Regions from separate parts of the Homo sapiens genome. Here region 2 is linked to region 1. The links come from fine-mapping of genetic effects on gene expression. A gene starts in region 1. The other region holds a variant in brackets. All regions are shown on one strand. Distances are between the middles of the regions. Region 1 holds the start of POLR2M (RNA polymerase II subunit M). Region 2 overlaps GCOM1 (GCOM1, MYZAP-POLR2M combined locus).

Region 1 (4,401 bases):
AGGAACATCCAGGAACTAGTGATGAAGTATCAAGTATCGGGTCAGAATTCTGGGCCTTATCTGTACCCACATCAACTTCTGCAATTGCTTTTTGCCTTAGCTTACAGTCTAAACTAACAGGGTTAAACAGTTCACTTTTTCTTCTAACTTCTTCACATTCTGCAATGGCAGCTTTCAGTTTGGCAAAAGAGTCAAAGATCTTTTTACCTTTGTCGGGCAATTTGCAAATGAATTTTCTGTCAAATGGAAAAGAATACTATTACATTACAGCCATTTTTTTAACTTGAGATATAACATTAAAAAGGCAAGGCATTATCTTCAAAGAAAGAAAAGCTGATTTTTAAGTCAAATATCTGATTTCTAACTGCCCCAAAACAAGAATAAAACAATTAAAATGGTCATTATCCAAATAGCCCAAAAAACAAGGGAATGCAGGAAGAATAGGGAATATATGCCTCATTTGTCTCAGCAAATTAGAATTTCAGCAAAAGTATTTTAAGCATATAATAATCACATAAGACATTCCAAGAACCAGCAGTCATTAAAGTGCAATCTCCAAAATTTGGGGATGGGGTGGAGTGTGGGGATGGGCCTATTAGGTCAAAACTACTTTCATAATAATACTAAGATATTATTTCCCTCTCATTTTCTCGCATGGGTACAGTGGAGTTTTCCAGAGGCTACATGGCATGTGATGACATCATTGTTCTAGAATAGAATGTGTGCTTGTGTATGCTTATGTTTTAAAGACTTCAGACGTATTTCTGATAAGTAAATACATTTCGCTAGATACAACACATAAAATAGCTCTTTGGGATGTCAATAATTCTTAAAGTATAACGGAGTCCTGAGACCAAAAAGTTAATTCACTGCTATACATTCAAAACCTATTCTCACAAGGTCAAAACACATGTCTTGATCCCAACCAATTATTTATTTGTCCCTTTTGCTGGATGACAGAGTTCCTTTTCTGATTCCCTTTTCTTTAACTATACAATAAATGGAAAGAAAAAATTACACCTTAAGTCCTCTGTTCTTTTTGACACTACATTCATCCCCACAATTTCAACTATTAACAACACTCTACAGCTGAAATTCCTGTTTTCTGTATTTTTCCAGGGTTCTCTCTTTCTTGAGCCTCATGACTACTTCTCCAGCTTTTAAGTGTTTGGTTTTCGATTAACCAAATGTCTGTCCTGCTCTCCTCTCAACTCTGCACACCCTAAGTAAAATCAACCTTGGATCTATTCCTCTCCCTGAATTTTCCTATTTTTGCTAGTGGTCTTCCATATAGATTGGAAACTTCAGCCATCTCTGTCAACTGCATTTAAATTAGTCCATGCTTAAAAGTTCTCCCAATCCCTTCCTAGCTCACTTTCTTACAAGTGTCTCGTGGGAAGTCTCTCTGAAAATATCCTTCTACTGTCTTCTGCTTTTTATTCCTTCAAACCATCTTTTGCAACAAGCTGCTGAACAAAGCTGCCTAAAAAACAAAATCACTTTTATTACGTGGCTCCCTTGCTAAAATCCGTTCAACCAGCCAGCTGAATGAGGGTCGAACTTTCCCGGCCTAATAAACCCCTCTTCATATCCCACTCTTCCCATTTCCTACGGTTCCTGTAAGCTTAGAATCCAGAGATGAAGCTGACAATCTGTTATGGGTTAGGGGTGCGGGCGACAAAAGGGTTTAGAAAGCAGACTCATGGAACCACCACAGTCCCCGGGTAAATAAAACCGACCAGGGGCTACTAACTCCCTGCAACGCCAGGTAGCCGTTCAATCCGAGCTATCCTCGCAGGCATACGTGCCTGGCCAGGAAGAGGCACGGCTCTGCCGCAGCAAGCCCTCCGTCCACTCGCCCGTAGGACTGAAGCGAATGTGACTGAGTCAAAGTCACCTTCCAGGGAAGGGAACAGAGTGCGGGAGGGGAGGGGAGCGCCCAGGGAGCTCGAGCTGAAGGAGCCTGGCGGAGACTCCGCGGGACCCCAGCTTACTCGTTGCGCAAAAGTCTCTCCTGGCGCTTCAACATTTCCCGCAGCTCCACCAAACTCCGCTGCGCCAAGTCCTCGGGAGCTTGGGGCTCGAAGCCGCGGGGCAGCGAGCACATTCTGCGCGGGCTGAGGCTGGCGCGGCGGCGGGCACTCGGCTTCCTCGGCAGGCCCCGCTACTAGCGCCGGATCCGCGGACGGCGGTGACTCCGGGGCACGAGCGGGAGTCGCCATTTTCCCGGAAGAACGGGGTCTTCTTCGAGCCGAATCGAGCTTTATTGAAATTCCGGAAACAAACACGGACTGGGAGAAGGGGGCGTCCGCAGGAGCGTTAAAGGGCGGAAGTTACGTCGGATGACGCCGGCTCCTTGGCTTGGCGCCCTTTCCCCTTGTGTGAGCATTCATGCGGTCATCAGCTGTTCGTCGGTTTATACAAAAAGTATTCAGCGCCAGCGTGACCTCACCAAGCACTATGTGTCAGTCAACAAATAGCAACGTCCTGTGTTATACTTGGGGTTTACAGAGTTGGCGGGGGGATGGGGGGAGGGAGAATCAAATTATGATATAATAGTAACGTTGGGATGGGCACCTGGGAAGATATCTCTGAGAAGTGGTTCAAGTCGAAACTTGAAAGATGAGCTGGCCATTAATAAGGTGGGAGAGAGTGCGGGACAGGATTTGGGAGACTCTGGCCTGTGCGTGGTGCCTCCGGCCTGTGCGTGGTGCCTCCTAGCTCAGCTTAGGGACGTCCTGAAATTGTTAAAGTTGGAAGGTTCCTCAGAATCAGCGATTTTTCTTGGGGCTCAATGCATTTGGAGAAGGACTTCATTTGTAGCACCGCCTCAAGCATTGTTAAGACATTTGGTGTTTCTGGCTTCTGCCTGCTAGGTGCTATGGCACTCCCAAGTCATTGCAACAATCCAAAATGTCTCCTCCAACATACATTTCCAAAGGCCCACAAGAGGTGATGAGGGAGTGGGAGCAGCTGTACAAACTCGTTGAGGACCTTTTCGAATTTTCTACTTTGCCTATAGAAAAACAGAGGCATGAAAACTGAAATAAATATTCCCAGGGCACAAAACCAGTAAGTGACAGCACCAGATTTCAAACTCAAAAGCCCAGCCCCTTTTCCAACACACCAATTTGAAAATCCCCTTCTTCACTTTAGGCCTATTTCCAAATGTGTAAAACTGTTGAAAAGACTTCCCTCCGCCCCCCCCCACCCCCGCCACCTCCCCAGCTGTTGAGAAGAAGGCAGCTTAATAGGTATTGGACACAGCTTTTACCTTCTCGTTATAGTTCAGCTACCAGAGGTGCATCCCAGTGGAAAGAGTAGGAAGACATGCAGTCACAGCAGATGTCACTTGGGAGGTTTGAACACCCCCATAACCCACCGCCCTCCCCCGATTTTTTGATATAGGAAATTGAAGTTGTCTCAATCCTGTGTAAGATGCTATATAAACACAAGCAGCTCTGTCCTAAAGAGACAGAAGATCTAGGTAAACTCCAAAGCTATTCCAGGGAGCACAATTGCAACCATTTATCTATCCCCCCAATCTGGTCCATTCTGATCAGATTCATTAATATATCAAAATAAGTTTTCTCTGTATAAGACTTGCTTTCAAGGACGTTAATAACGTGCTGCAGCATTGGCTGAATGAGAAATAGGTAAGGTCCTCGAGTCAGGTGGTTGTCTGTGGTACTGACAAAAAAAAAAAAAAAAGACTCCGTAAAATGTTGAAGAGATGTATTCTGTGCCAAATATGAGTGACCATGGCCCGTGACACAGCCCTCAGGAGATCCTGAGAACACGTGCCTAAGGTGGTTGGTGCACAGCTTGGTTTTATACATTTTAGGGAGACATGAGACATCAATCAAATACATTTAAGATAAACATTGGCTTAATCCACAAAGGTGGGACAACTCAAAGCAGAGCGGGTGTGGGGCAAGATGGGCTCCCAAGTTATAGGTAAATTTAAGTTTTTTTCTGATTGGTAATTGATTTAAAGGAATGTCTAGGTTAGCATAAGAACTTGTGGAGACCGAAATTTTATCATGCAGATGAAGCCTCCAGTTAGCAGGCTTCAGAGAAAGTAAGTTGTGTTTCTTATCAGACTCAAGGTATATGTGTTGATATTAAATGCTGTGTAGCTTTTCCTGGATTCTAAAAGAAAGAAGGGCATAATGAGGCATGTCTGACCTCAGCTTCCCATCATGGCCTAAGCCAGTCTTTTAGGTTAAATTTGGAGGACCCTGGACTACAGGAGGAAGTCCATTCAGACGGTTGAGGGCGGACCTTCAAATTTTATTTTTGGTTTACAGTGATAAGCACCCCGCAAGCCTCCCTCACCCCACCCCTGGACCCCAGCTGGAGGCCTTTATTTCTCCCACAGTAGTGAACTCCCCATGTGCT
Region 2 (4,401 bases), 21 kb after region 1:
ATGTGTATATTGTACACACATATATATGTGTATATTGTACACACATATTATATATATGTGTATATTGTACACACATATTATATATATGTGTATATTGTACACACATATTATATATAATATATATGTGTATATTGTACACATATATTATATATAATATATATGTGTATATTGTACACATATATTATATATAATATATATGTGTATATTGTACACATATATTATATAATATATATGTGTATATTGTATACATATATGTGTATAATATATGTGTATATTGTATACATATATGTGTATAATATATATTATGTATATTGTATACATATATATTATATGCATATATAAAGTATATATACATATAAAATAAGCAAAAATATATATTATATGTATATATATAAAGTAAGCAAACTTACTATATATAAAGTATATATATAAAGCAAACTATATAAAGTGTGTGTATATATATATTTATATATATATAAAGTAAGCAAAAAGTGGCTACAAAAGTATGTAATGTTAATAGGTAGCATATATTAAGTGCTTATCATGTGCCAAGCACTATTCTAAGAACCATGCAGGCATTAACTCATTTACTCTTCACACCAACCCCATTAGGAAAGAACTCTCACAGTTCCAATTTTACAGGCCCTCAGACAGGGTTGTGACTTACCCACATGCGCACTAGTGACTAAGCTCAGATAGCTGACTCGAGTGTTCCCACGTTCTTAAAAATCACATGATTCCACTTCTCAGTATAGGGTTATATTTATTTTAAAAACAAAATGGAGCGGGTGTGTTTTAAAATTCTGGAAGGTCTGGAATGAAGATATTAATTGGAAGATTATAGGATGTTGTTTTATTTTTTAAAAACCCTTTACATACACTGCTGCTTTCCATTTCAGTGAGATAAATTTACTATGAAATGTTAGAGTTCATTCTCCCAATTTTATGTAATACCCCTGCTCATGAAGAGGTTGATGAATGTCAGTCCTTTAGATGGAGGGTTGGGGGGCACTAGAGTCAATGTTGACAAAGGATCTGGAAGGATTATCTCTCAGCTTCTTTCGGTTTCAGTCTGTACAATTTAGGAACTCTCTTTAATAGTCTTCTTGAGTAGTTCAAATCATGTTTAGAATTTTCCATATGTTGAAGATATATTTTAAAATACAAAGGCCCGAGCTGCAGAATGGTCCCTGGTATCCTTTAAATTTAAAATTACTAAGTTTTTCTTTTCCTTGCTTGTTTTAAGAGAGAGAGAAAGAAGTGAATGTGGAAGTATTGGCAGAGTAGTTTTCATTTCTACCTTGGTCTCATTAAAATTGACATTTTTTAAGTCATTGCATTTCACTTAGAAACTGCTTCCAGACCAGTTTCTTCAGGGGGATGGGCTCCCAGAACCCTCTGCCTCTCTCTGAGTCCAGCTTCCCTATCTCCTGGTCCTAAGGACAGCTTTTTCTCTAAGTGCTCCTTCTTGGTGGCTGCCACAGAACACGGTTTTTTGCTGCTAGAATACCTCCAGTGGTGAGACTCAACCAGCAATCAGCAGTGCTCTAAAACCTCCAGAATGACAGCAATCACTGCCTGTGTGCCTAGCAGTGCCCACTCCCTATGTGGGAATGACCTCATGTGGCACTCA[CG/G]TCAGCCTATCAAGTAGGTGTGATAATCCGAGGTTTTTAAAGGATGAAACTAATATTCAGAGAGCCTTGACGACTCGCCCAAGGTCCCACGGACAGTGTTTAAATACAAATGTGGCTCCCAAATGCACATTTTCCTCTTAGCATGATTCTGACTCACAGTGATTTATCTAACTGAGTTGCTTTGCTTTCTTACTTTTTTATTTCTTTGGTTTTTTGGAAGTGGAGACAGTAAGGGGTGGGAGGTTTGAGGAAAGGTTTAAAAGTAAAATCTATTTTTGTACTTTGTGATCATTAAGGTATCTTGCTTTTTCCACATGGTGTATTAACTAAAGTTCAGCAATTAAAAAGACAGATAGGCCCCCCACCCTCCCCCGACACACACAGTCAATCTTATGGTTTACAGATGCTTGTATGAATTGTACTGGCTGGAAGATCATGTGATTTGACTTTGACACTCATTCCAGAGCCTGATCTGCTCTCTGCCCCTTCTACATGGTCATGGATGAAACAGAGAGACAACATTAGTAGAACAAAATATATGGTATTTATTAAACACATGTGACATAGGTTATAATATCAAAGTAGAGCATGCATGAACAGATGATTCATTCGTTTAACAAAAACACCAATTGATACTGAGAACACTAAATTATTAAATTTCCAAGACATATAAAATTCTCTTTAAGTTAAAGTGAGAAAGAAAAAAAAATCACTAGTTGAATAAATACAGTGATTTCAGCTGGTCCAATGAAAGCATAAGGCACAAATTAAACCAAGGGACTAGCGCATCAGAATGAAGCTTGTCTGGCCCACACAAGTCTCTCAGTGTGGCTCCCACGACCCTGCACAGATGCTTGGGACCAAGAGGAAAGAGCACCTGCAGGCCGGGAACCCTCCCTTCCAGGTTCAAGTTTGGCTGGGTGCCCATGCTTCTTGTGGACAGGCCTCTCTGTATCAGAGAAACGCTGCCTCTAATACTTTTATGGGTAAACAAAACCTTCATGCTCTATCAAACAATCCTGGCATGAATAACATGAAACTTCAAATTAATGTCCTTTTCCCTCCCAACCAAAGTCTAGCAAATAAAATACATTGTGAAGGAATCCTCCTGATAGGATTTCAGTGTCTACAAAGAAAACAAATGATGATGCAGTACGGCAGGGTATGCCGAGTGGGTGTCTGAAATGTGACCTTGTATATCCCTCTCTTACCTGCTCACTCTGCCTTCACTTTCCTTCCTGTCTTAGAAGTGGATCAGAGCCTCAGCGATTCCCATTCCGGCTTACACTGTGTGTAGGGGAAACAACAGTCACCCTTCCCAAAGGATTTGAAGCCACAGGGTTCCAGAGCTTTTGTCCATCTGTAAAAAGTGTATGCCTCTGAGTGCCTAAGTCAGAGTTTTCTTCATGGTTAACTCCAGGACTCTTGTGTATGGGGTGTAGTTCCTAGAAGGCATCACAATTTCACGAGTCCTGCCTGTTTGGCTGAGAAATGAGAAAATGCAGGTCAGGAAAATGAAACAAAACAAAACCCCCCATATGCTTCACATGGTAAGACAACTCTAGAAAATGGTGTTTAAGTGTTTAAAAATAAAAAGACAATAATGCAGCTTAATATTTCACTTAAATATTACAAACAGGCCCTGCAATGGACTTTACGTTTTCCCAAATTCATATTTTGAAATCCTAACCCCTAAGGTGATGTATTAGGAGGTGGGGACTTTGGGAGGTGATTAGGTCATGAGGGTGGAGCCCTCATGAATGGGATTAGTGGCCTTATGAGAGAGGCCCCAGGCCCAGCGTGGTGGCTCACGCCTGTAATCCCAGCACTTTGGAAGGCCGAGGCAGGGGGATCACCTGAAGTCGGGAGTTCGTGACCAGCCTGACCAACATGGAGAAACTCTGTCTCTACTAAAAATACAAAATTAGCTGGGCATGATGGCACATGCCTGTAATCCCAGCTACTCAGGAGGCTGAGGCAGAAGAACTGCTTGAACCCGGGAGGCAGAGGTTGCAGTAAGCCAAGTTCATGCCACTGCACTCCAGCCTGGGCAACAAGAGCTAAATTCCATCTCAAAAAAAAAAAGAGAGGCCCCAGAAATATTCATCATCATCCCTTCTGCTATGTGAGGACATAGCAAGAAGACACTATACATGAACCAGAAAGCAAGTCCTTGCCAAACACTGGATCTGCTGGCACCTTGGTCTTAGACATCCCAGCCTTCAGAACTGTGAGAAAAAAATTTCTGTTGTTTATAAGCTAACTAGTTTATGGTACTTTGTTATGGCAGCCAGAACAGACTACGACAGGTTAAAAATAAAAAAGTTATTTTTAACAACCTGTAAAGGTTGTACTAGGCATCCATGGTTCAGAAAAATATGAAACATGCATTCAAGGGACTTGTCACCTGGTGGGAAAGATATGTACATAAAAAATTTTCATGTACTGTGTTAGGAACTATAACAGAGACATAACAGCTGTGCTGGGCATTCTTCTTTTGCCATTCAGCCCTACTCTGCCCCTTCTCCACCCTACTCTGTGGCCCGGAAAAGTCAGCATCCATTTGCCCTTCAAATTCAGTTCCTTTTGGCCTACTGCAAGGTGGTAGCAGGGGATCAGGGAATGAGAGGACAAAGAGGTCGGGACATTTTTCCTTTCCCAGCCAGGCTGCAGCTTGGTAGTTGGCGGCATCCCTCTACCAGGGCCCATAGCTACAGCTCCCCAACTTGTTATCTTCCCCAGCTTTCTCCCCTGCCTCCTCAGGCAA

What was found. PIP is the estimated chance that this variant, and not a neighbour inherited with it, causes the effect. A credible set is the group of variants that fine-mapping cannot tell apart.
Region 2: its variant is the best candidate, but not a certain one, in a credible set for the expression of POLR2M in whole blood (INTERVAL, PIP 0.61).

Annotation. Positions count from the first base shown.
Region 1 is chr15:57,704,549-57,708,949 of GRCh38, reverse strand. It overlaps POLR2M (RNA polymerase II subunit M), which reads right to left and starts at 2,236. Exons shown (of 4, transcript NM_015532.5): 1 at 1,995-2,236; 2 at 1-236. The coding sequence starts at 2,107. It overlaps GCOM1 (GCOM1, MYZAP-POLR2M combined locus), which reads right to left. Exons shown (of 17, transcript NR_104371.3): 14 at 2,578-3,016; 15 at 1-236. RefSeq lists a silencer at 1,752-1,801 and an enhancer at 2,122-2,341.
Region 2 is chr15:57,683,119-57,687,519 of GRCh38, reverse strand. It overlaps GCOM1 (GCOM1, MYZAP-POLR2M combined locus), which reads right to left. Exons shown (of 17, transcript NR_104371.3): 12 at 2,846-3,118. It overlaps MYZAP (myocardial zonula adherens protein), which reads right to left. Exons shown (of 13, transcript NM_001018100.5): 13 at 2,156-3,118. The coding sequence ends at 3,022. Among named protein-coding and RNA genes, the nearest start is that of POLR2M, 21 kb to the left of the region's middle. The variant CG/G (reference allele first, on the strand shown) is at 1,634.